Linked DNA regions of Homo sapiens: regions 1 and 3 are each reported to be linked to region 2. The links are microRNA targets in miRTarBase. Many come from high-throughput screens and were not tested one by one. Region 2 holds a microRNA gene; each other region holds the end of a gene's coding sequence.
The links. Region 2 holds the annotated microRNA hsa-miR-492 (AGGACCUGCGGGACAAGAUUCUU, at 6,503-6,525, shown strand). A microRNA usually pairs through its seed, bases 2 to 8, with sites in the 3' UTR of a target mRNA and lowers its output. Matches are read on the target gene's strand: a 7mer-m8 pairs with bases 2 to 8, a 7mer-A1 pairs with bases 2 to 7 and ends in A, and an 8mer does both.

Region 1 (6,041 bases), not on the chromosome of region 2:
CTTGTCTGTAGTCTGGGCGGCCCGTGGCGCTGCCCTTCAGCCCAACTACTCATTGCCGCTGCGTCTTTGGCGAGGCTTTCATTTCCAACCTTTCTTCCCATCTCAGCCCTTTTGTTGGCCCGGGTCCCAGGAGGCTGGTGTCGGTGAGGGCAGGCCCGCTCCTCTCATCGGGGTGGCTGTGGCCTGTCCCCCAGTCCCTCAATGGCCACTTTCTATAAACAAGGCAGCACTAATTTTTGCTATAAGATAAAAGAGGCCAGGCACGTTGGCTCACACCTGTCATCCCAGCACTTTGGGAGGCTGAGGCGGGTGGATCACCTGAGATTGGGAGTTCGAGACCAGCCTGGCCAACATGGTGAAAACCCCGTCTCTACTAAAAATACAAAAATTAGCTGGGCGTGGTGGCAGGTGCCTGTAACCCTAGCTACTCAGGAGGCTGAGGCACGAGAAATGCTTGAAGCCAGAAGGCAGAGATTGCAGTGAGCCAAGATCACAACACCGCGCTCCAGTCTGCGCGACAGAGCGAGACTCTGTCTCAAAAAAAAAAAAAAAAAAGTGCAGGTGCACGCTGGTGGGGACATTAGGAGCCTGTCAAGAGTGGGTCTGCCTGCTGGCACTTACTAGACGGGAAATACCCCCTAAAGAGGGCTTAAAAAGCATCTTCTCCCTAGCACGGGGCATGCTGGCACAGGGTGCTGTGTGACAGAGGCTTGGCCGCTGGGCCCCGCTGCTGAGAAGGCTGCTCTGCCCATGCCTGGCCCTGTGGGCAGTGCCAGCCATGGATCCCTGAGACCCTGGGCTGGAACCTGGGGCCCCGTCCCAGCCCTACCTGCAGCTCACTAACCCTCTCTGGGTTCTGCTCAGTGTCTGAAGTGATGGAAAGACCCCAGGGTTGGTGGCTGTAGCGGCCCCCAGGGGTGGCAGAACCCTTTGGGAGGCCAAGTGTTCTTTCCCAAAGCTGCGCGGGTGCCATCGCCTGCCAGGCCCTGGCTGTGGTGACAGACGTGGGCTGGGGTGAGGCTGCATCTGCTTCCTCTAACAGCCGTGGCTGCCTGCGGGCTCTGGCCTCCGCTCTGGCAGATTCTGCACATTCCCTGCAGGCGCAGGGGTGGGTGGGGGTGCCTGTGGCCTCGGAGGTACAGCCAGCTGTCCTCAGCTCAGATGGCCCCCAAGAGCCCCCAGCTCCTGTTCACTGCTCTTCCAGTTAGTGACCCCCGTGTCAGCATCATTGTCAGAGTTCCTGGGCTTGTGGGGGCTGGAGAAGGGAAGGCGCTGAGGAGGGAAAGATGAGTGCAGGTTTTGTTGAAACCACCCGACCCGCGTTTTCAGGGGGACGAGGCCACTGCCTTGGCCCAAGGACCTGCAGGCTTGGGGGACCCCCTCGATGTCCACTGGGCTGCGGATGAAACATCACACTGTGGTAGGAAAGGAAGGGGAGCACCCCCAGACGGGGGGGTCCTGCAGAGACCCCAACCCCTTACCTACCTAGTTGAGACACCCATGGGGAGCAGCCCCAACAGCATGTCGGAGTCCCTAGGCTTGTGGGGTCATGCTCTGTTGAGGGCCCTTCCTCTAACTGGCGAGCTTGTTTACAGCTGAGCTCGCCTGGTCAGATGGGCCCAGTGGCTTTATCTAATAAAGGCTGGACATGTCCACTTCATGAGCATCCCTGTTTTGAAGTCTTATTTTTAAACTCTTGATCCAACGCTTGGATCAGGAATACCCCCTAGATTAACAGTTGGGGCATAGGGCATAAAAGTGGAACATTGATCAAAGATACCGTAATCATATCCATCGTTTTCTGTCTTGAAGAACAGTTTTCACCTGGAAGTAGAAGGCACAGGGGAGGCCTGGCTCACCACAACGCTCCCTGCCGTGCCGAGAACTGAGCCCGTGTCTTTGTCACAGGCCCTCACCAGCTGGGCCAGGAGTGGCTGGCTTGGGATCTCCACCTCCCGAGCTGAGCTCACCTAGTGCCCAGGGCTTGTCAGAGGTCCCAGGGGGAGACAGGTGTTGGTGCAAAGTCAATGATTTCTCCTTGCAGATGGGCTTGGTGTGAATGCAGGTGGCCGTCAGAAGGGCTGTCCACCTTCCTTCAGGGGGCCGCCTGCACCAGACCCCAGGCTCCCAGGCCTGCCCAGGCTTGGCATACAGTCCCCTGGGGTGACAGCGTGCAGGGGAAACTGCAATTCCATGCCCTACAAAGCCCCCAGGTGATGTAGAGGCCTGTAGCAGGCATGGGGAGACCTCTGCTGTCCACAGTGCCAGCACCCCCTTCGGCTGACACCTGTGCTTGACCAAGGTTCCAGGCCTCAACTTATGGGGCAGGCATTGGACCTTCTTTTTTTTTTTTTCCAAGACAGAGTCTTGCTGTCACCCAGGCTGGAGTGCAGTGGCATGATCTTGGCTCTCTGCAATCTCCGCCTCCTGGATTCAAGCAATTCTCCTGCCTCAGCCTCCCAAGTAGCTGGGATTACAGGCACGCACCACCACATCCAGCTAATTTTGTATTTTTAGTAGAGATGGGGTTTCTCCATGTTGGTCAGGTTGGTCTCAAACTCCTGACTTTGTGATCTGCCCGCCTCGGCCTCCCAAAGTGCTGGAATTACAGATGTGAGCCACTGGGCCCAGCCCAGAACTTGGTTTTATCCACCTCTGGTGAAACATGAGCTCACTTGGTGCTCTCTGGCCTCTTTATTCCCATCTCCTTAGGCTGACCCTGACAAGTGCCAGGGCCAGGCTTGGACCAAGCAGTCAACTGAGTCAGCCTGCCCTGGGAACCAGGCAGGGGAGGGAGCTTACGGACGGGCTAGGCTCAGGAGAGTAAGAGAGAGCAGATGAAGGGCAGAAGTCCGTGGCCGCAGAGGCAGCTGAGCATGAGGGATGGAGCGTGCTGCTGTCCTGCAGGTGCCGTTAGCCCTGTTTTGCACTGGTGGATTGATCTGCTCAGGCGCACAGGGAGATGGCACAGCAGGACCCGCCGCCCAGCCTCGCTGAGGGCATGCTCCCGCCTCACCTCCAGAGGCTGTTGGGCGGAAGCCGAGAGCTGCAGCAGTTGGGGCCAGCGTGGGACTGGAGGCCCAGGTGAATCTTGTGGGGCAGGGGACGGAGCTGAGGCTGTCCGGCCCGGGCCCTCCCCACCCAAAGGCCCTAGAACCCTAGCCTTCAATCCTGGGGGTTTGCTTCTCCCCTGAGTCCTGGCTTTCCTGACCTGCCGTCCGTTAGGGACAGGTGGAGGGGCCAAGTCTTGCCATCAGAGGCCAGTGTGGTGGTGCCAGAGCTACGGGGTATTCCAGGACCCCTGACCTAGGCACGGGGCAGGAGGGCCCAGAGCCACCTGGCCACTTGTCAGGAGCTTAGGATTGGGAGGAAAGAGGGAGCCTGTATCCAGACTAAAGCCAGGGGTCTGCATGTGTCCTGGCTGGCCAGGGCCACCCTCCCAGACCTCAAGCCACCCCACCTACCACTGCCCACCTGGTGCCACCCCAGCACTGCCGCAGACCTGGCCCAGCAGCTCCTGCTCCTTAGCAGGGGATGAGCACGCCCACCACAGCCACCCTCTTCTCCAGGCTGCAGGGCAGGCTCCAGCTCCCCATGGGGGCCCCATCAGGCCAGGGCCCCTGGCTTTACTGCAGGGGAGAGGGTCTCTTGTGCAGACCCCATATGGCTCGTGCCCCCTAGAGCTGAGATGAGGCAGCCGGCCTGGCTGTAGCTGCACGGAGCCACCTGGAAAGCCAAAGGCAAGCTCCAGCTCCAGACCAGGCATTGGGCCAGCCGTGCCTGTTACCGTAAGTTCTGTTCATGGCCTCAACCAACTGCCCAACCATGCGGGCAAATGACCAAGACGCCATCTCTTGGGCCCCTCAGAACCAATGTTGCAGCAAGGTGGGCTCACTGCAGCAAGGGGCAGAGCCACCACCACGGTGCCTTCTGCTCACTGGGGAGGGAGGAGTGTCCCCACTGGTCGGGGCTCCCCCGCCTGCTGGAACCTCCCAAGTCCTGCCCCCTGCATTTCCCTGTGCAAGGGGAGAAGGAGCAGTAGGAGACCCTCATGCAGGAGGGAGGGAGCCGCAGTCCTCAGGGGAAGGGACACAGGGAGAGGCAGGGGCACAGAGGCAGGAAAGGATGGCCAGAGCCCAGCCTACTTTCTGCTGAGCTCCTTGGCCCGGCAGGTGGCAGCCTCCACGGCGCTCATGGTGGCTGCTCGCAGCCCGCCCTGCTCCAGGGCGTGGAGTCCATAGATGGTGGTGCCACCCGGGGTGCACACGTCTGAGCGCAGCTGGGCTGGGTGTTGGCCCTCGTGCAGCAGCATCTTGGCCGTCCCCTGAGGAGAGCGTTAGGGCCTGGTGACGGGGGGAGGTGGTGCGGTCCCCACTGTGCGGCCTGCCCTCGTTGCATCCCCCAACCTTGGCCCCAGCTTCTCGAGCCTGCTGTTTCCCTGCGCACTGGAAGAGGTACAGGCCTGGGCCTTCCCGATGTTCCCCAGGGGCCACCCTCACTCACCAGCAGGGTCTGGGCAGCGATGCGGTGGGCCAGGCTGCTGGGCATGCCCATCTTGACGGCTCCTTCAGCCAGGGCCTCGGAGAATGCACACACCTGTAGCCGCGGCATGGTGGTTGGGGGGGATAGGTGTCAAAGCCTGGGGGCTCAGGACCTTCAGGAACAATGCCCAGAGCAGTAGCCGTGGGTGGCCAGAACCAAGGCCTGAGCCCAACGGTCTGCAAAGGGGCTGGCCTCAAAGATCCCCAAGGCAGTGAAGTCCCGGGGACAAGCAGAGCTCCCAGTGGGCCTGGGGAGCAACCACGCAGGCCTCAAGGTTGGACTCTGAGGGCAGAGGCTGTCAGAGGGACTGGGGTGGGCCCCCTCTTTGCCGAGGGTGGGGCCGGGGATGGACGAGGCAATACTCACGAAGGCCACGCCACTGCCACTGAGGCCAGTGTGGATGTCGACGTAGGCTTCAGGCACCTCCTCACACCGCCCACAGGCCTCCAGCAGATGCTGCAGGAGCTTGGTCTCGCTGCTCCCCACGTGGCGGCCCCGCGCCATCACTATGGCCCCTTCCTGGACCACACAGGGCAGGTTGGGCAAGACCCGCAGCACCCGTGTGTTTGGGGGCAGCAGCTGGCCAGAGAGAGGTCAGAATCAGGGAGTCTGTAGGACTGGGCCCTGCTGGGCAGGCCCCAGCAGGGGCCTCAGGAAAGGTCCACGTCAGCTCGCGGTGGGCTCCAGCGTCTGCCTCCCAGGTACAGCACCAGGAGGGAACCCTAAATCCAGCCACTTGATCCAGGTGGGCCACACGGCCACCTCTCAGGCTCTCTGGGGGGCTGCCTGCCGCCCAAGCCTGGCCAGCAGAGCCTATACTGGGACCAAGGCCTTAGCCCAAGGGACACTCACCTCCTCCAGGGTGCTCAGAGACACCCCAGCAGCCACGGACACCAAGATGTGTTCAGTGGTGACCACAGGAGCCACCTCTGCCAGGACAGCTGGCAGCACATGAGGCTTGGTGGCAAAGATGACGAGCAGGCAGCTCTGCAGCACCTCCTGGTTGGAGTGCGTGGTCCGGCAACCCAGAGCCTGCGCCAGGGACACCAGGACCAAGCCTCAGGGGCCATGTAAGCGGCGCACCCTCTCCATCACAGCCCTTCCTGCTGGATGCCACACGTTCCCATGGTCCCAGGGCCTCTCCCATTGCAAGTGTCTAGACCACCCCGACTTCTCCAGTGCCCAAGACTCCCCCAGACTAGCCCTACTCCTCACAGGCCATCCTGATGTCAGCGCCTCCCCAAGCCCTGAGCCCTCCATCCCCAGTGAATGTCTGTGACCACCACCCAGCATGCAAACACACCCATGCACATGCACGCACTCACGAGCATGCATTCATATACACACACGCAGACACATGCACTCACGAGCATACATACACATGTACACATGAATGCACTCATGAGCACAAACACATGCACACACACCCACTCGAGCATGCACTCATGTGTACACGCACGCACTCATACACGCACACACGCACTCATATACACATCTGC
Region 2 (10,912 bases):
TGGCAACAAAAGACAAAATTGACAAACGGGATCTAATTAAACTAAAGAACTTCTGCACAGCAAAAGAAACTACCATCAGAGTGAACAGGCAACCTACAGAATGGGAGAAAATTTGTACAACCTACCCATCTGACAAAGGGCTAATATCCAGAATCTACAAATAACTTAAACAAATTTACAAGAAAAAAATCAAACAACCCCAACAAAAAGTGGGCAAAGGACAAGAACAGACACTTCTCAAAAGAAGACATTTATGCAGCCAACAGACACGTGAAAAAATGCTCATCATCACTGGTCATCAGAGAAATGCAAATCAAAACCACAATGAGATACCAGCTCACACCAGTTAGAATGGCGAAGTCATTCTAACTGTTCATATGGACCAAAAAAGTCAGGAAACAACAGGTGCTGGAGAGGATGTGGAGAAATAGGAACACTTTTACACTGTTGGTGGGACTGTAAACTAGTTCAACCACTGTGGAAGACAGTGTGGCGATTCCTCAAGGATCTAGAACTAGAAATACCATTTGACCCAGCCATCGCATTACTGGGTATATACGCAAAGGATTATAAATCATGCTGCTATAAATATGCAAAGGATTATAAATCATGCTGCTATAAAGACACATGCACACATATGTTTACTGTGGCACTATTCACAATAGCAAAGACCTGGAACCAACCCAAATGTCCATCAATGATAGACTGGATTAAGAAAATGTGGCACATATACACCATGGAATACTATGCAGCCATAAAAAAGGATGAGTTCATGCCCTTTGTAGTGACATGGATGAAGCTTGAAACCATCATTCTGAGCAAACAATCGCAAGGACAGAAAACCAAACACCGCATGTTCTCACTCACAGGTGGGAACTGAACAATGAGAACACTTGGACACAGGGTGGGGAACATCACACACCAGGGCCTGTCATGGGGTGGCGGGAGGAGGGAGGGATAGCATTAAGAGATAGACCTAATGTAAATGATGAGTTAATGGGTGCAGCACACCAACATGGCACCTGTATACATATGTAACAAACCTGCACATTGTCCACATGTACCCTAGAACTTAAAGTATAATAAAATATATATATAAACAGCTAATAAGCACACGCAAAAATGCTCAATATCATTAGTCATTACAGAAATGCAAATTAAAACCACAATGAGATACTACTACACACCCACCAGAATGGCTATAGTCAAAACGACAGACAATATCAAGTGTAGAATGGGATGTGGAGCAACTGGAACCCCCTCATACCCCAGAGATGGGAAGGTTAAATGGTACAGTCACCGTGGAAGGCACTGTAACAGCTTTTCAAAAGGTTAAATATACATCTACCATATGTCCCAGGAATTGCAATTCTAGGTGTCTACCCAAGAGAAATAAAAACATTTGTCTACACAAAAACTTGCATACAAATGATTATAGCAGCATTATTCATAATAGCCAAAATGTAGAAACAACTCAAACGAACATCAACTGGTGAATGAGTTAACAAGATGTTGTATATCCATATAATGAGATACTCAGCAACAAAAAGGAACTACCAATGTACATTACAACAGTGAAAAGGGTCAAAAACATGCTAAGGGAGAAAAAGCCCGTCACAAAACCCTATATTAAATCATTCCACTTATATGAAATTTCTAGCAAAAGCAAATGTATGAAGATAGAAAGTGGATTAGTGGTTGCCCAGGACTGGGGGTGGGAGAAGAGACTAACTGCAAGTGGGCACAAGGCCACCTTGTGCTGTAATGGGCATGTTCTATAAACATGGATTACGGAGATGATTGCACAACTCTACAAATTCACTAAAAATCAATGTATTTACAATGGATGGACTTTAGATATGTAAATTATACCTCAGTAAAGTTATGGGCTCAGTTCAGAGGGCAGATCTTCCAGTCATATTCATGATGAGTCACAGGCAATCCAAAGATAGAAACAAAATGGAGAGAAAGAATACATTTCCTTCTTCTTCAATTTTATTTATCAAAAGCACTTTCTTCAGGTATCTCAAAATTTAAAGCTATAAGCCAGGCACGATGGTGCACACCTGTAGTCCCAGCTACTCTGGAGGCCAAGGCAGGAAAAACGCTTGAGCCCAGGAGTTTGAGATCAGCCTGGGAAACATAGCAAGACTCTATCTCTCTTTATTATTTTTTTAATTAAAGCTAAAATACCCAGATCTCTTTTTTTAATTATTATTAATTTCTGAGACAGAGTGTTGCTCTGTCATCCAGGCTGGAATGCAGTGGCACAATCTCAGCTCACTGCAACCTCCGACTCCTGGGTTCAAGCAATTCTCCTGCCTCAGCCTCCGAAGTAGTTGGGATTACAGGCGCCTGCCACCATGCCCAGCTAATTTTTGCATTTTTAGTAGAGACAGGGTTTCATCATGTTGGCCAGGCTGGTCTCAAACTCCTGACCTGAAACGATCCACTCACCTTGGCCCAAAGTGCTGCAATTACAGGCATGAGCCACCATGCCCGGCCCCACATCTGTTAAAATATGATTTTGCAGGCAGTTTGCCTGGAGGTTAAGGGTTGGAACTGTGGACTCAATCTGTGTGTAAAACCCAGCACTCCTACTTACTAGCTGACTTTAGCATGTTACTTAGACTGAGTTTCAGTTTCTTGTTCTGATACAAAAAATTAATACATACTACAGAGTTGTTTTAAACTAGCACACTATCTATTAACAGCACATGGTAAATACTCAACAAATGCCGATGTTATTTTTTTATTATCAACACATCATCATTACCATCACTATGACTGTAGTTTCCTTGGGAGACTTGAAAACTTGACTGATATGTGTATGTTCCTAATGTACATTTAGTGCTTCATCACTGCTATATTCAATTTAATTGACTGCCCAAACATAACCATGTTCCCTTATAACCCTCATTCCTTATCTTAGGGACCTTATACTTTGAAATAAAATCCCTGGATCATTTCACTAACAGAACAAAAGCTGTGCTATTCCCTGGCTAAAGCAAGATATTTTCCAATTCAACCATAGGAAAAAAACATTTTTAAAAGGTGCAGTTTTTGTTTGTTTCTAGGATAGGAGAACTGGACAAAGAAAAAATGTCAGCATCTCCTCAGAGAAGCCTGGCAAACAGGGGAAATAACACTAAACAAAGAAAGCCATGTGCAGAGGACCTGGCACAGGAACACAATTGCCAGGCCTTGCACCCGAGAATCACCAACACCTGCAGAGTAAAGCAACGGGCCACGTACAGTGCTGACTGCTTCCTGGGTGACAGCTGAAACCCAGCCAAGTTCAAAAACCCCTCATTGTGGGTGTGTGTTTTTGCTTTGTAACATCTATATGAAAAGGGAAGGGAAACTGCATGGGGTAAACTTTCTATTTTGTAAGACAAGCGTCTTCTTGTTCTCTTTTTCTTTTTCTGGTCAGTGAGTGGAAGGACAGAACCCTGGAAAAATACCTGTGCACCAAGCAAGACAACCCCATCACTGATGTCAGGAAAAGCAGAGCAGTCACCTCTGGCTTGCCCAGCCCACCTCACTCGCCCACCAGCACACACTGCGACTAAAGAACCCCACTTTAGCTGACTGGAGCATTCTTCCAGCCACACACCTCAAAGATCATCTGGGAAGAGATACCACAACACGGCAGGGGGCCGGGTGCCTGTGCCAGGGAGGGACACATGCTCTTCACTCCCCACACTTGCTGGTGAGCCACAGAAGCCCTGTGACCTCAGCACACTCAAGGGAAATATGTCATGGGGCTTACCCTTCATGAGGACCGCTCTAACTTAGCATCCAAGAAAACCTCACAGCCCCTGTGGGGACTTCTCCTGGGCACCACCTAGCTCCTGCCTTAGTAAAGTGTGGAGAAAACCAACTTCCTCACAGAAATGTCTTTTAGAGCCAAATGTAAGTGTCCCTGAAATCAAGTAGACAATGATATTCCTATCATTCTGGGCCTGTCCTTGAAAGTTGTCTCTGTTGTTTTCTTTCCACTAGAAAGTCATAGACCCTGAGACCCAAAAAGGCCCACAGGGATCTAGAGAGGTGAAATAACTTACTAAAGGCCACAGAGGATGGAAGTGGCCAGGCCAAGACTAACACCCAGCTTTATCCACAAAATCTGGAAAATGCTATCAGGCTATCTTCGACCCAGAAAAGAAGCGCTCACAAGAAGAATATCAAGGGAGGCTAGTCCAGACTCTGCAGCTAGTGTCAAAGTTCAAATCCAGTTCTGTCCCTTACTAGGGCACGTAACCTGGGCAATTTCCTTAACTTCTGTTTTCTCTTCCATTAATAAGAGGATAATAACAGCATCAACATTACAGAGCACTCCAAGCATGAATGTATCAATACCGAGAGTTTCTATATGACTGATCATCCTCCTCCTCCTCATCATCATCCTAAAACAGACAGGGGAATGAGAGTAAAGAAGGGATGATAGGAAAAAAAGGTAGAAAGTGAGTGTATGGTCACTAAATAAGTAGAGCATAATTTAACTTCAAAAAATTCAAAGACATGTCTAGGGTCATATCCACAGGGGTTAGTGAGAACATAAAAGCAAAACGTATTATAAACCATTAGGTACAGTATGGCTCCAACTATGTTAAATATTCATACCCACATGTATATACATACTTCCAGAAGAAAGTGAAATAAAATGCATGAAACATTAATTCTCTGGGCACTGGGATTAAGGTTGATCTTTATTGTCTTCTTTATTACTTTTATTTCCCAAATTTTCCACAACAGACATATATTGCTTTAGAAATCAAAATAAATGTGGGTTTTAAAGGCTGTTTTTATTTTTTTATTTTTATTTTTATTTTTTTGAGACAGGGTTTCACTGTTACCCAGGCTGGAATGCAGTTGTGCGATCACAGCTCACCGCAATCTCCACCTCCCAGGCTCAGAAGCAATCCTCCTGCTCCAGAGCCCCCACCACCCATAGCTGGAACCACAAGTGCATGCCACCACACCCAGCTAATTTTTGTATTTTTGAAGAGATGAGGTTTCATCATGTTGCCCAGGCGGGCCTTAAACCCCTGGACCCAGAGCCATCTGCCTGCCTCCGTCTCCCGAAGTGCTCACAGGCAGAGCCGCAGCGCCCAGCCCAAGGCTGTTTTTTAAAAGAAGAAACTTGATACCAGGCCAGGCCTCAAATGGCAAAAGGGCTATTAGGTAGAATCCCAAGAGGCAGGGGCTGTGTTTACTCAGACAGCCAAGGGGGAAGTGCCTGTGTCTGGGAAGAGAACAAGACTTAGGGGGAAGGGGGAAGCTTAACCACGAAGCTTATGCCTGAGAGCATCAGGCCAGGGAAGGACTCTGTAAAATAGGAATAAATTCCAAAAGAAAATAAAACAGAAGTGACGACATCAGCAGTCCCTAGTTAAAAGAAGAAGAAGAAGAAAGAGAATCCTGGAGCAAGCCTCTGCGCAGATAATTTTTTTTCCCTGGCTGGAACAGAAGATCAGTCACCAAAACTAAAAAGCAAAAGATCCAAGTGGCTGAAAAAAGGAATTATGGGCTCCCACTGGGGACAAGACTTGCCTGGAAGCCCATCTGAGGGCTTGCTGCCCTATCCTTCACATCTGAGATTATCCCCTGATCCCAGCCAAGACCAGGGATTTCCTGCTTTTTGGCATCCAGATGCGAGAAATAGATCTGCTGACTCTGAGATCACTGACTGACACTAGCCAGGGCCCAGAGAGAACGCCGCCGTGGGGTCTAAGATCGAGTTCACCTGGCATCTTTCTCGGCACGTATCTTCCTGGCTTGTCCTCAGTCTCCACTCCTCTCAGTTTGAGTTCCCACCTCACCTCTTTTGCAGAGATTCCTTGTAGCTCATATGAAGGAGTGGACAGAAGACACAGAACAGATAGCAGAGAGAAGTACTGGGGGCCTCCCAGCTCTTGTTCAGGGCCCCACTTTCCTCTGACAAGCATGTTAAGGTTTATCCAGATTATCCCTCCAGTTCCCCTATTTCACAGATGAGGGAAATGAGACAGAAAAAGGGGGACTGTATGTCTGTGCCCATCAAAGTCAGATGAAATGATACACTGTCTTAAGACCATCTGATTCGGGACCTTGCCTGAGGTCACAAATCTTTGTAGTGACAGAGCCAGGACAAGCACATAACTATCCTAATGGCTGCTCCTTCCTTCAGCACTGTGGCTGCCTACGAGCTGGACTGCAGTCTCTACTGCTCACTAGAAAAGTTCCAGTCCCCCAGCAGGCACAGGGGCTCCAGCAGCCGCGGCGTGTCCTTGTCCTCCTTCGGGGGGCTACAGCGGCATCCTGTCTGGGTCCAACGGATTGCTTGCGGGCAACGAGAAGCTCACCATGCATAACCTCAACAACTGCCTGGCCTCCTACCTGGACAAGGTGCACGCCCTGGAGGCAGCCAACAGCAAGCTGGAGGTGAAGCTCCGTGACTAGTACCAGAAGCAGGGGCACAGGCCCTCCCACAACTACAGCCACTACTACAGGACCATCGAGGACCTGCGGGACAAGATTCTTGGTGCCACCATTGAGAACGCCAGGATTGTCCTGCAGATCAACAATGCTCAACTGGCTGCAGATGACTTCTGAACCAAGTTTGGTTTGAGTGTTTGGGTGCTGGATGAGGTGACCCTGGCCAGGACTGATCTGGAGGCACAGATCAAAGGCCTGAAGGAAGAGCTGGCCTACCTGAAGAAGAAGCATGAGGAGGAAATCAATGCCCTGAGGGGCCAAGTGGGAGACCAGGTCCATGTGAGGGTGGATTCAGCTCGGACCTGCCAAGATCCTGAGTGACAGGCAAAGCCAATATGAGATCATGGCCAAGCAGAACTGGAAGGATGCTGAAGCCTGGTTCACCAGCTGGACTGAGGAACTGAACCAGGAGGTCACTGGCCACATAGAGCAGCTCCAGATAAGCAGGTCTGAGGTCACTGACCTGCAGTGCACCCTCCAGGGTCTTGAGATTGAGCTGCACTCGCAGCTCAGCGTGAAAGCTCCCTTAGAAGGCACACTGGCAGAAACAGAGGCATGCTTTGGAGCCCAGCTGGTGCAGATCCAGGCACTGATCAGCAGTATTGAAGCCCAGCTGGGCGATGTGCGAGCTGATGGTGAGTGGCAGAATCAGGAGTACCAGCGGCTCCTGGAGCAGGAGATCGCCACCTATCGCAGCCTGCTTGAGGGCCAGGAAGATCATTACAACAACCTGTCCACCTCCAAGGTCCTCTGAGGCTGCAGGCTCTGGGGCCTCTGCTCTCCTCAAAGCACGTCTCCTGGGTAGGAGGATGGGAAGGAAGAGACCCTTACCCCTGGTTCTTCCCCTGACCTGCCAGCAAAATTTTATGGCTCAAGGGAAGAAAAAAAAAAAAAAACAAGAGCAAAGAAAAGTTCCAGTCTAATCCCCAGGCTCCTCTTGGGCAAATGTCAACACATAAAATGATCCAGAAGGCCAAGTCAAATTACGGTGTAATGGACAGGGGTGCCTCTTCACATTGCCTAAGGGACAACTATAACAGAAAACATCTCAGTCAAAAAGGTGACCCTGGGCCAGGCGCGGTGGCTCACGCTTGTAATCCCAGCACTTTGGGAGGCCGAGGCGGGCGGATCACGAGGTCAGGAGATCGAGACCATCCCGGCTAAAACGGTGAAACCCCGTCTCTACTAAAAATACAAAAAATTAGCCGGGCGTAGTGGCGGGCGCCTGTAGTCCCAGCTACTTGGGAGGCTGAGGCAGGAGAATGGCATGAACCCAGGAGGCGGAGCTTGCAGTGAGCCGAGATCCCGCCACTGCACTCCAGCCTGGGCGACAGAGCGAGACTCCGTCTCAAAAAAAAAAAAAAAAAAGGTGACCCTGCAATGTGGATTGCCAGGACCCACAATGAGCCAGAGGGGTTGGCACCTTTTCAACACGGGCCTGCATTCCTGCAGGTCCAGATCCCAGAGTGTACTGTATCCAACGTGCCTGTGGCTAGCGTGTGTCTACAGACTCTGGAACCACACTCCTTGGCTTCCAACCCTGGCTCCAGCACATACTCTGTGACTTTTGGCCAGTACATTAACCTTTCTGTGTCTCCATTTCTCCTTCTGGAAGGTAAGCATTAAGTATCTCCTATCTTTAAAAGTTCCTAAGAAGTCTACATCCTAGGCCACCCTATATGTGCACACCCAGCAGCCCTTTCTGTCCCCTTTGAGCCCAATCTGAGGGAGGACAGGTCCCTCTCTCAGCCTCAGAAAGTGAATGATGATGGGATTCAACCTTTTCTTTGGTTTTCTCCTTCTCTTTGGCCAGTGACAAGTCAAAGGCAAGAATAACTCGGTTCTCACTAAACAGGGAGGTCAGCAGGGAAACTTTCCTTTCCCAATAAAAAGACATAGGTTTGGCCAGGTGCGGTGGTTCACACCTGTAATCCCAGCACTTTGGGAGGCTGAGGCAGGCGGATCACCTGAGGTCAGGAGTTCAAGACCAGACTGGCCAACGTGGTGAAACCCCGTCTCTACTAAAAATACAAAAATTAGCCGGGCATGGTGGCACATGCTTGTAATCCCAGCTACTCGGGAGGCTGAGGCAGAAGAATCGCTTGAACCTGGGAGGCAGAGGTTTCAGTGAGCCGAGATCATGCTACTGCACTCTAGCCTGGGCGACAAGAGCAAAACTCCATCTCAAAAAAAAAAAAAAAAAAAAAGACATAGGTTTATGCAAAGCGTATTAGGCCATTCGTGCACTGCTATAAAGGAATACCTGACACTGGGTAATTTATAAAGAGAAGAGTTTTAACTGGCTCACTGTTCTGCAGGCTGTACATGCATGGCACCAGCATCCTGAGCACAGCTTCCAGGGAGGCCTCAGGGAGCTTTTACTCATGGCAGAAGGCAAAATGGGAACAGGCATGTCACATGGCATGGCGAATGAAGGAGCAAGAGTGAGTTGGGGCAGAGGTGCCACAAACTTAAACAACCAGATCTCCTGAGAACTCACTCACTATCACTCACTATATCAAGGACAGCACCAAGACATGAGGGATCTGCCCCATGACCCAAACACCTCCCACCAGGCCCCACCTCCAACACTGGGGATTAGATTTCAACATGAGATTTGGGCGGGGACAAATATCCAAACCATATCACACAAAAGAAGCCTTTTGACCCTTCCACTGCCTTTAGTGCTGCTATAGCAGCCATCTGCCGCCATGGGGAAAGAGCCAGGAAGGCCAAGAGGATCTCAGCCCTGAGCACTAACACTGTCCTGGTCTCTGTGCCCAGGCCAGCCTCCACTTATTCCAAGGATGACTGTGAGGAATGTGGACCCCTGCTTGTTTACAGTACTGTTGGATAACTCTTCTTTTGCTTGTGGCCAAATGCCATCCTAATAGGTCAACTGTATAAGTTTATTCTCATTAAAAAAAAATAAAATTTAAAATCATGTTCTCCAAAAAGTTACTGAGTAAAAGTGATGTCGCAATATCAGTATGACTCATGGCATTGATTTTTGTTCGTTTGTTTTTTGTATTTTTCTGAGACAGAGTCTCACTCTGTCTCCCAGGCTGGAGTCAGTGGCGCAATCTCGGCTCACTGCAACCTCCTCCTCCCGGGTTCAAGCGATTCTCCTACCTCAACCTCCTGAATAGCTGGGACTACAGGTGTGCGCCACCATGTCTGGCTAATTTTTTTGTATTTTTAGTAGAAATGGGGTTTCACCATATTGACCAGGCTGGTCTCGAACTCCTGACCTCGTGATCCGCCCGCCTCGGCCTCCCAAAGTGCTGGGATTACAGGCATGAGCCACCATGCCTGGCCGGCATTGTTTTATACACACACACAGATACAGAAATATAGGGATGTGTGTGTATATACATTATATATACACACACACACACACACACACTATATATGGGTGTACATGTCACATATATTTCCTAGCTTTTTCCACTCAGGCGGCCTTGAAGCTGTGATGTCCCTACAGCAACAAGCACACTTAGTATCTGGATCTTGGTTTCTAAATACCATCCTCCAGATGACCTCCAAGAGACCAGTGTTCCTTGAAGAAATGGCTGGCTCAAGAACTGCAGCAAGGAAAATACAAGATGAACCTGGACATCTTAGAATGCCAGAAAGCAAAGGAGGTGCTTTTTTTAAAAAGGAAAGGGTGAGAAAAGGAAAAAAGAAGAAAGATGGGGCATGTCAAATGGACGTATAAGCCAAACTGAAGGAGTTCCCAATAGCCAAAGCTGGAACAAATTAGAGGGAAAAAAGGGGGGATAGTAGTATAAGATCATAGAATAAAACAAATATCTGTGAGCCTATACTGAAATAAATAAGTGACTAAGTAAATATAGCAAAAGGGACAGATCTTCCTTACAAAAGAATTCCAATTAATAATTATAGAAAGAATTAGGAAAATAGAAAATCACCTGTATTTCACTGGAGCAGAAATGTTTGCCCTAAAAAAAATTATGGCCTTCAGTCTTCCTGGGAATGATCAGCTGTTGCACTTTCGGTGACAGCAGGATTATGGACATTAATACAGAACTTTACAGTTTATAAATTTTTTTTTAAGAAAGAAAAGAAGAAATCATGATTAAACACCATAGTAATAACTGCTTTAACAAGATCCACTGATGAAGATAAAATTAATGTGTGAAACTTTATGGAGAAACATTATCTGCACAACCTTAAAATATCTCCTAGCTGAATACTAATACAAATATTAATTACTGTGGTGGTTTTAAAATATGTCCACAGACTCTTTGATACTCCTCCATGAGGTGGAACTTAATCCCCCCATGCCCTGAGTATGGGCTGGACTTGGTGATTCCTCTCTACTTAATCAATGATGGAAAGGGAAAGACAGTAACCTTACAGTAGTGAAACCTAGCAGACATGAGACATCACCAGTACCAAGCCATCTTGA
Region 3 (10,912 bases), not on the chromosome of region 2:
GTCCTGCTCCTGTGATAGTTCTCTGTCTGGGCTCTGAGGCTTTCTGGGGCATCCTTTGAAATCTAAGTGGAGGCAGGCATGCCCTCATGACTTGTGCACTCTGCACTTTGGTAGAGATAGCACTGCACAGACACCACCAAGATTTACTATATTGCCTTCCAGAGAGTGGCCCAAACTGCACATGGGCCTGCGTGAACCATACCTGGGGCAGGTGAGGAGCATTGCAGCAGAATGCAGGAAGTGGAGATTTGAGGCCACCTGGCGTCAAGGTCCTACCGGTTTCCAAGCTTCCTCTTTTGATACAGATATGTTGCCCCCAGCCTTGGCAGTCTGTGCCTATGATAGGAAGGACAGCACAAATAAACACTGAAAGGCCTTTGGTGTCATTCTTTCATTATCTTGATAAATAGCACCTGATTTCTGCCTCACCGTACTAATCTCCTTATCAAACGGTTACTTAGCCACACCCTTGGTGTTCTCTCTTGAACACAGCTTTCCACTCTATACAATATGACCAGGCTGAGAATTTTCCAAATCTTTAAGTTCTGCTTCCACATTTTATTATAAGTAGTCAAAATCCTCAACATTTTGCTTAGAGATTTCTTCTAGAACATGAACATGATTTGGCCAAGTTCTTTTGCCCCTTTGTAACAGAGATCATCTAGTCCTCAGTTGCCAATAACGTGTCCTTCATTTTTGTCTGAGACTTCATCAGAATGGCCTTTACCATCTGTATTTCTGTATTATCAACATTTTGATCACAACCACTTAGGTAATCTCTAAGAAGATGGAGGCTATTTCTACAGCTTCTTCAACCTCACCTTCTTCTGAACCCTCACCTGAGTTGCCCCTAAGGCTCCTTTCATGGCAGTGGACCTGTAAACTCTTTCCATCCTTTATTTATTATGCAGTTCCAAAGCTGCTTTCCCATTTTTAGGTTTTGTTATTAACACACCCTATCTCTCTGTGCCTATTTCTGTCTTTGTTGGTCTCTGCTGCTATAATGAAATGCCTTAGACGGGGTAATTTACGATAGAAATGTATTTCTCACAGTTCTGGAGCCTGGGAGGTCTAAGATCAAGGAACTAGCAGATATGGTCTCTGGTAAGGGCTACTCTCGGCTCCATAGATAGCATCTTGTTTCTGCATCCTCACATGGTGAAGGCGGCAAGGCACCTCCCTTCAACCTCTTTTTTATTTTTATTTTTTTATTTACTTTTTTTTTGTTTGAAACTTTAATGAGAAAAAACATATACTATCGAGCTCAAGAATATGGTGTGTTTGGTGTGCCATTGGGCCAAGGGTTGGGGATACATGTAGCAGAATTAGGAAACAGGATATACATCAACAAAAATTCACACGATCATGAGAAGGAAAACTGGCACTTGGCACAATCAACTCTCAGTTTCCTCATCATTCAGCAGCATATTGGGAACCCTGCGACTGAGGCAGAACACACGTCTAGACTCTGGGCACTGCAGGGTGCCCTCCAACACATCCACCTCCAGCAGCACATGGTACATCTTCCTCAGAAACTGTTCATCCTCCTCATATCCCTCAACTGGCCCTTTAGGCACCCCAGTCAGGTGCAAGGTATGTATCAGCTGCCTCCAGGAGCACCGGTCACTCCTAGGGTATCATACTGTGCCACTAAGTGAGGGTTGAACTCCAGAGGGCAGATGCAGACCTCAGTGGCCTGGAGGTGCAGGGGGAAGCCACAGGGCCCCACCCCCACACATGCAAGCTCAGCAGATTGTCTTCAACCTCTTTCATAAGGGCACTGATCCCAATGAGGGCTTTGCCCATATGGCTTAATCACTTCCAAAAAGGCCCCACCTCTTAATGTCATCACCTTGGGGATTAGGTTTTTAAACATATAAATTTTGGGGGCATTAATATTAAGATCATAGTAATGGGCATATGTGATGTACAAGCCTATCCCTCACATTTGTGGGACCTACAGCAAGAGCAAAAAATGAAAACCTACATACAATATTATAAATATTTAAAATGAAAATCCAGGCACAGTGACTTATGTCTCTAATCCCAGTTACTTGGGAGGCTGAGGCAGAAGGATTGCTTGAAGCCAGGAGTTTGAGACCAGACTGGGCAACATAGTAAGACCCTATCTCTAAAACTTTTTTTTCTTAACAAAAGAAAAAGGTTTAATTGGACTCACAATTCTACATGGCTGGGAGGCCTCACAATCATGATGGAAGGCAAGGGGAGCAAGTCACATCTTACATGGATGGCGGCAGGCTAAGAGAGCTTGTGCAGGGAAACTCCCCCTTATAATACGGTCAGACCTCGTGAGACTTATTTACTATCATGAGAACAGCATGGGAAAGACCTGCCTCCATAATTCAATCATCTCCCATCAGGTCCCTCCCACACACATGGGAATTATGGGAGCTACAAGATGATATTTGGTTGAGTACACAGAGCCAAACTATATCATTCTGCCCCTGGTCCCTCCCAAATCTTTTATCTTCACATTTCAAAACCAATCATGCCTTCCCAACAATCCCCCAAAGGCTCAACTCATTTCAGCATTAACCCAAAAGTCCAAGTCCAAAGTCTCATCTGAGACAAGGCAAGTCCCTTCTGCCTACAAACCTGTAAAATCAAAAGCAAGCTAGTTATTTCCTAGATACAATGGGGGTACAGGCATTGGGTAAATATAGCTATTCCAAATGGGAGAAATTGGCCAAAACAAAGGTGCTACAGGCCCCATGAAAGTCCAAAATCCAGCAGGGTAGTCAAATCTTAAAGTTCCAAAATGATCTCCTTTGACTCCATGTCTTACGTCTGGGTCACACTGATGCAAGAGGTGGGTTCCCATGGTCTTGGGCAGCACTGCCGCTATAGCTTTGCAGGGTACAGCCTCCCTCATGGCTGCTTTCACAGGCAGTTGTGGAGTGTCCTGAGTCTTTTCCAGGCCTACAGTGCAGGCTGTCAGTGGATCTACCACTCTGGGATGTGGAGGACGGTGGCCCTCTTCTCACAGCTCCACTAGCCAGTGCCCCAGTAGGGACTCTGTGTGGGGGCTTTGACCCCACATTTCCCTTCCACATTGCCCTAGCAGAGGTTCTCCATGAGGGCCCCACCTCTGCAGATTTGGGTGGGGACACAGAACCAAACCATATCATTGGGCAAGTCCTATAGGCTGAGAGAAATAGTTAAATAAAGGCCATTTAGAGAAGAGTCAGTTGACCTTAATATCAGAGGGCTCTCAGAAAGATATCTTGGTAAATACTCTTACACCTTTCCCCTTGACTCATAGCAGGACCACTCTAGGCCGGTCAACAGAAAGAATTGATCCTTTTCCCTGTGTGCTGTTTTACCAGAAACTTTACCCTGCTCAGAGCAGGGACACAGATGGGGATATTTTCCAAGCAAATCTCCAGTTTCCCACTTGACTGCTATGTGAGGAACCCCTGTTAAGAGAGGATCTGACCACTGAGCATGACTGGCAGTCTGAAGAGGAGTCTGCAGATGGACCCCATTCCTCACTAAAACCTGAGCATCCCACCCGAAGCCAGTGGCTCACTCCAGTTCTTCCCCACTCTTCCTGTGCCACTCCACACTCAGTTCAAATATTGGCCAGCCACGATGGCTCATACCTGTAATCCCAACACTTCGGGAGGCTGAAGCTGGCAGATTGCTTGAGCCCAGGAGTTTGAGACCAGCCTGGGTAACGTGGCGAAACCCCATCTAGTTCAAAGTGGCTGGGGAGGCTTCACAATTACGGCGGAAGGCAAGGAGGAGCAAGTCAAGTCATATCTTACGTGGACGGCAGTAGTCAAAACAGCCAAAATTTTTTAAAAAAATATAGCTAGTCAGATGACGTACGCTTTTAGTCAGGAATACCATCAGAGGAGGGGTACTGTGAGTTTACTAGCAGACCAAATGAGAACTGTTACTGCTGTCAACTTCTGTGACAACAAAATGAACAAAAAAGAAAGGTAAACTTTGTGGTGTCAGCACTGTAGTAAGCAGAAAATCTGTAAGGCTCCTAAGAACATCCTGGTTGCTGGCAGCCATTTCTTTAAGACTTTATATAGTGTTAAAAACTAAGAAAGCCCTAACCGAAATAATACTACCCACTTAGATACTGCAGCAGTCAAAATTTTTCAGTCCTTGTGGACTTCTTGTATTCTGGTAACCTTGTACTCACAAGCCAAAATAATGACAGTGGCCTATCTTCAAACAAGTGAAATTTCAAACTTGCTGAAATTTTATTACAGATGCCTAAATTTATTAAAGATTAAATATAAGCATTAAATCAGAAGTTCCATGGGTCTGCAGTTGTGGACTATAATAATAGAAAACCAGGCCGGGCATGGTGGCTCATGCCTGTAATCCCAGCACTTTGGGAGGCCAATGTACATGGATCACTTGAGGCCAGGAGTTCAAGATCTGCCTGGCATACATGGCAAAACCCTGTCTCTACTGAAAATACAGAATTAGCCAAGGATGGTGGCTCACGCCTGTAATCCCAGCTACTCGGGAGGCATGAGAATTGCTTGAACCTGGGAAACAAAAGTTGCAGTGAGCCAAAATTGTGCCACTACCCTCCAGCCTGGGTGACAGAGCAAGACTGTCTAAACAAACAAACAAACAAACAAACAAAACTCAGTTAATAGAGATGGTCTGTCTTCATCATTGGATCAAAAAATTGCCAATTTTTGGGCAACATTAAATCTTACCAATTTGGCAAGTAATATAAAAACTGAAAATGATGGCTGTAATGTCAACAAGGGCCAAACAGAAAACTACCAAGTGAGTGACAATAGTTGGGTCCAGAATGCATCTCCTGAAATGGCTGAAAACAAATCCAAAGGTCAAACAAGTGTTTGCTTGGAATAATATGGGCTCCCAGGGAATTCAAGAAACTGGGAAACACGGAGGAAAAACCAAACTACAAGGAGATTTATTTATAATACATCATCTAATAATGAAACAAATTTGGAAGATTACTCAATGATGCAGCCATCTATTGCCTTTTCAGAGGAAAATACGCTACTCATATTTGAGTAGAAATCTTGGAAGAACCAGATTTGGATGTTGCTCTACTTTCAGGGCCAGATGATGATAAGAATGTATTGGCTGAAGCTGGGTCTAATCAAGATGGAGGTGATGTTAGAACTTCACATGATTTTATAATAAGTATGGTTTGATGCCTGGCACTTCAAGTGACTTCAAGTATGAATTGATACCAGATACTTTGATTTCAAATATGGATTATTGCCAGAATCTTGGCCAAAACAAGAAACTTGGGAAAATGGTGAATCATTCATGTTAGGTTGTTCTTGTGTTGCTATAAAGAAATACCTGAGACTGGGTAATTTATAAAGAAAAGAGATTTAATTGGATCATGGTCCTGCAGGCTTTACAGAAGCATAATGCTTGCATCTACTTGGCTTCTGGGGAGGCCTCAGGAAGTTTACAATCATGGCAGCAGGTGAACAGCGAGGAGGCATCTCACATGGCGAGAGAGGAGGCAAGAAAGAGTGTGAGGATGGGGAGGAGGTGCCACACACTTTTAAACAGTCATATCTCTTGAGAACTCACTCACTATCATACTCTCATGAGGACAGTACCAAGCCATGAGGGTCCACCCCCATGACCCAAACAACTCCCACCAGGCCTCACCTCCAACACTAGGGATTACATTTCAGCATGAAATTTGGGCACAACAAATATCCAAACCATATCATCATCTCTAATCATGAATAAGTTAAAATGCCATCATTGTAGCTATGCAGCCAAATGCAAACAAACACTAAAAAAGCACTTGCTTATTCATACAGGAGTGAGATCATTTAGCTGTGACTTTTTACACTTGGAGAAAACATGTAAGAAAACATTTCTTGGTGCACAAGAAGGATAAAAATGCAAATGTATGGTATGTAAGATCATGTTAGCAGCCAGTGTTGGAGTAAGACATGGATCTTGACCCTATGGTTTTTGTGTAGACTGTTCCAATAAATCACAACCAGGAAGGCCAGCAAGTGTAGATGAGAGACAGGATACAGAATCCCTCATGATAAAGACTATGAGGAGAATGAAGTAGGAGAAGCTGATGAAAAGTGGGTGGATGATGGAGATCAGAATGATCCATCTCAATGAGATGAATTAGCAGATGTTTGTATGTCTCTAGATATTTAACTGACCCACTATATTCCTCAAGGATACTGCATTTGGACATAATACAAATTGGCAGTTTGGAATGTTGAACTTAAAGTCTTGCAAAATGTGGTACATGCTAGATGGTAGTTATGTTGCTATGAGGACTATATGATCAAAGCCTTATAGCAAAAAAAATTTTTTAATATTTGCAAAGGACTGTACAGCAAACAACCATGTGGTTGAATTACATGCAGTCCTCATATATTCAGTTGGTTAGCAAACTAAAGTATTTTTTATTTATGGGATGTACAGTAACTATTGGGTCTTACGGAAATATAGTACCTGTCCTTATAGAGCTCACATTCATGTGCTACTCTAACATGACTGAAGAAATTCATTATGGAAGTACAGTGATAGTTGACCCAATCACTCAGTTTATCAAACTCCCCAGGCTAGCCTGTACTAGTAGAGTTGTGTTTCTATTTTTATTTTTTACTTTTATTAATTTTATTTTTAATACAGATTTTCAGTAAGGGGCATTTTCAACCTAATTGGTTCTATTTTCTTGTATTTTCCATTTTAATTTGCTTCATAACTTAAACCAAGGCTCTTCCAGTCTTAGTTATTATGTCTCAGTTATGTGCCAATGGGCATGTTTTTAAGAACTGAAGAGGTAATTTATTGCAATGAACTAACTGACCTCCTCCATTCCTTCTTTCCTTTTTGACATGAATTTTACTACCCCACAAATGAAAAATGATGTTGCAAAGTTACTGTGGTGAAGTTGAAAAATATCACTAAAATGATTATAATTTAGTATTAATTTTCTCCTGCTGCTCTAATCTGATAAATTCTTACTATATAGTGTTTTCTGACATGGTATTTGGTTTTATATCTGTTACTTTGGTGCTATTCTTGTTTGCCTTTTCTTATTTTTGCCAGTGTACTATACCTCAGTCCTATTTAGAAGACCTGATGGAAAGAAAAGTCATGTAAATAATAAGTAAAATGATTTGTTTTATGATTTATTCACCATGTCCAGTTTGGTTAGCTTGTTATGCAGTATAAGTGAAATATCAGGTTTTTACCCTATGCTCTTTTTAATCATTAAAATTAATACAAAATGTGTGTGTGGCAGCTGGGGGAGACATTCCGCCATGAAAATTGAGAGAAGGTCCCGGTAAAGAGATTTGCTTCTTTATTTTCTAGGAATATCTAGTCTTCTTAGAGTTGACTGGTCACATCTGGAATGAGGTGCTTCCTGAGAAATCTCTGGATCTCCTTCCAAGCATGTTCCTGTGCAGCTGCGTGTGGGATCACCTCTCCTCCCCAGTGTAACCTCAAATCGTGGGTCGTTGAGGCACAGCACAGAGGAGAATAGGGAGGTTCTATCAGGTGGCCTGCCCCAGGGTAAGATAGCAGGGTCCAGTTGTTCTTCCCATGTCTCTTCAGCTGTCCTATGGCTTGTTCAGCGTGTGCTTTGCTGTTGATAGTCTTATCACCTTCTCCTACAATGAAGAGGAATTGCCCCTGGGCCTCTTCAATAGGAAACAAATATTGACTGGCCCCAACTTGAGTTGTCTCAAAAGTGCGATAGAGCTCTAGTAACCCCAAGGCATTGGTGGATATTAATTGTGCAGAATGGGGAAGGGGCTGATGGATCTGACCATGATATACCTGTGGAATGCCAAAAGGAAAGTTGGTCCCATTAATAAGTACCGTGGCTGTGACTTGCTTTAGGTAAATAGCCATAGATAGTCCAATCTGTACTCCTTGACATACAGAGACTACCCCAACGCCTGAGCCAAAGACCTGAAAAAAATAATAGAAATGAGAAATTATTCTAGCCTTCATTTAGGAAAACTCCACAATCTCAAACAACCAAAGAACTTCACTGGCTAATGAGAACAAAGCAAGTATTAATCCTACCCACATCCCTAGCTATAGAGTTCTGGAATATATAATATGTATTCAAAAGAAATACTCCAAAAATATGTCAAGCTTTACCGACTATATATTACGGATTCAGTATTGTGTTAGGTTCTGAGTTTAAAATGCCCTAAAGAAATGCAAATGTCGCAGGGAAAGTAAGAAATGGCACATGACTATTGTGAATAATGTGGGTCAGGGTATAGATGATTGGTACACTTTCCTCCCTTCAGAGGAAAGGGCACCTTGTAGGAAGAGACTGAGAAAGAAAGTGAGATCAGTAGGATAGAGTTGAACAGAGGATTCTAGATTTGCTTTGTTTTTTCCAAAAGTTTTCTCATTGTGGAGAAAAATGTCATAAAGGAGGCTTGGCTCAGCTTCCTCCCTCATTGTCAGTCATCAAATAAGCATCCTTAAATTATCTATCCTACGGCAAGCACTGGGAGTCACAGAGAGAAAAGGAACAATCTCTTGTCATTAAGGAACTCACTGCCAGATGAAGACACAGGAGGAAAAAAAAAAACACACCAGATGATTGGAGCATCATAAATTCTATGATATGAGAATGTATGTAGGCTAGACTGCCAACCCAGATTAGCAGGGAATAAAGGCAGGATCAAAGAAAGGCTCTCAGAGGAAATGGGCTACAAAACAAATGAGTCTTCGTATTAAAAAATGAAAGCCAAGCCTGGTTAACATAGTGAGACCCTATCTCTACAAAACTAAAAAATTAGTTGAATATGGCGGTGTGTGCCTGTAGGCCCAGCTACTCAGGTTGAGGTGGAAGGATCACTTGAGCCCAGGAGTTCAAGGCTTTAGTGAGCTATGATTGTGCTATTGTACCCCAGCCTGGGCAATAGAGTGAGACCCTGTCTCAAGAAATAAAAATTACAAGAAAGTCAACAAGAAGGAATGGTATTCTATGCTGAGTATAGCAGACTCTGTTAGTTGCCTACACAGGAGCCATTCTCCACAATTTCAAAGCTAATATGACCTTGATTTTGTGTGGCATAGCAATATATCCAGCCCCAAGGGATAAATTCTGATGGATCCTAATCTATTTCCCTTTCTCAGCCTCTCTTCCAAGGCCAACATATTCTACCTAAGGACTTTTTTTGCCCCCCGTGCAAACTGACACAGAATCATGAAGAGAAAGCCTATGTTTATGATCATTCTTTTCAGACTAGGATGCTGGCCTGTTGACTTAATTCCTGAAACTGCCAGAGTCATTTTGTGACCTTCAGAGTAAGGCTAGAAAATTGCAGAAATGTCAATCTAATCTCCTTGATTGAAAACTACACTGAGTTTCTAAGCCAAAGTTTGAACCACCTATCACCAAACCTGTTATGTAAGAGAATAAGATACCTTATGCTGATGTTTAAGCCACCATCAGCCACTTTTCTGAGAAATGTAGCCAAAACATTCCTAATGTATTCACCATAGGAGAAACTCATGCAAAAACTGAGAGGCAATGAAGAGCAAGGCATTTAGAGGAACCACAAGTCATTCTTCATTATTTTAATTTAGAGTATAAGGTGGGAAATAACATAATAAGTCTGAAACAGAAAACACCAACTTTATGGTGCATAGCTTTGAAAGATATATTAAGCATCTTCAGTTTTTTTCCTAACTAAGGAGGAAAATTAGGACAAATTTTAAGGATGGGCATAAGATAAGACTGAATAAGTATGCAGAAGTCAGATCATAGGAAGCTTTGTCTAACATGCTAGGAAGCCTGGCCTTTATCCTATAATAAATAGGGAGACTCTTAAGCAAGCGAGTAAAATAGTTGTGTTTACAACTCTGACTTGCATAAATGGAGGCAGAAAAGCCACAGATTAATGCACTGATAAAAGCAGAAAATTATACTGTCCTGAACTAAGGTAACAGCAGTAAAAATGAAAAGGAAACTACATGTTCATGAGTTATTTTTGAGTATTGAGTGTATTGCTCCCAGTTACCAATTTGGTTGGGAATTCTAAGGAGGAGTTAAAGAAAATTGTTGTGTCACAAAATAAAGCTCCGATTCTCCTTGAGCACTGGCTCCTGGCAAGGACAGAGTCCTAGAGAGAAGCATCACTTTTCTAAAACCTTTGTTGACTTCCTGTATTTATTTTAATTGATCTCCTATATTTTAAAGGCATTTTATAAACCAATGTTTGGGATATTTTCCCTACTACTTAGAAACACATGAATCAATATACAACTCATGCCAAGCTGATGAAAATGTGAGAAATTCTTAGGGTAAGAGGGAAAAAAAAAACTAAACAAATGGAATGAGTCATATATACTCTCTATTTCCTACCCTGTATATTTAACAGGGGTGGCTTGAATCAATTAAAAGTTCCTTTCAAGCTCTGAAATTCTGTATTTTTTTAATTTTAATTTTAATTTATTATTTTTTACTTTATTTTTATTTTTTGAGACTGAGTCTCATTCTGTCACCCAGGCTGGAGTGTGGTGGCTCAATCTCGGCTCACTGCAACCTCCGCCTCTCAGGTTCAAGCAATTCTCTGGCCTCAGCCTCCCGAGCTGGAACTACAGGCGCCCGCCACCACACCTGGCTAATTTTTGTATTTTTAGTAGAGTTGGGTTTTCTCCATGTTGGCCAGGCTGGTCTTGAACCCCTGATCTCAGGTGATCTGCCCACCTCGGCCTCCCAAAGTGCTGGGATTACAGGCATGAGCCACTGTGCCTGGCCTAATTTTTATTTTTAATTGACAAATAATAATTATACATATTTATGGTGCATAATGTGATATTTCAGTGCATATATACATGGTGGAATGAACAAATCAGGCTGATTAACATATCCATTACCTCACAAACTTACCATTTCTTTGGGGTAAGA

Region 1: miRTarBase lists PYCR3 as a target of hsa-miR-492. Seed matches in the 3' UTR shown: 7mer-A1 at 2,333-2,339.
Region 3: miRTarBase lists BAAT as a target of hsa-miR-492. The part of its 3' UTR that is shown has no 7-base or 8-base seed match.

Annotation. Positions count from the first base shown.
Region 1 is chr8:143,601,559-143,607,599 of GRCh38, forward strand. PYCR3 (pyrroline-5-carboxylate reductase 3) reads right to left here. Exons shown (of 6, transcript NM_023078.6): 3 at 5,395-5,574; 4 at 4,909-5,121; 5 at 4,504-4,596; 6 at 1,652-4,324. The coding sequence ends at 4,142. It overlaps TIGD5 (tigger transposable element derived 5), which reads left to right. Exons shown (of 1, transcript NM_032862.5): 1 at 1-1,666. Among named protein-coding and RNA genes, the nearest start is that of PYCR3, 5.0 kb to the right of the region's middle.
Region 2 is chr12:94,827,925-94,838,836 of GRCh38, forward strand. MIR492 (microRNA 492) reads left to right here and starts at 6,474; the gene lies at 6,474-6,589. It also overlaps the pseudogene KRT19P2. RefSeq lists enhancers at 3,075-3,124, 3,275-3,484, 3,495-3,704, 5,875-6,376, 6,377-6,876.
Region 3 is chr9:101,355,072-101,365,983 of GRCh38, forward strand. BAAT (bile acid-CoA:amino acid N-acyltransferase) reads right to left here. Exons shown (of 4, transcript NM_001701.4): 4 at 5,346-7,944. The coding sequence ends at 7,357. It also overlaps the pseudogene TRMT112P4 and the pseudogene LOC100421197. Among named protein-coding and RNA genes, the nearest start is that of BAAT, 24 kb to the right of the region's middle.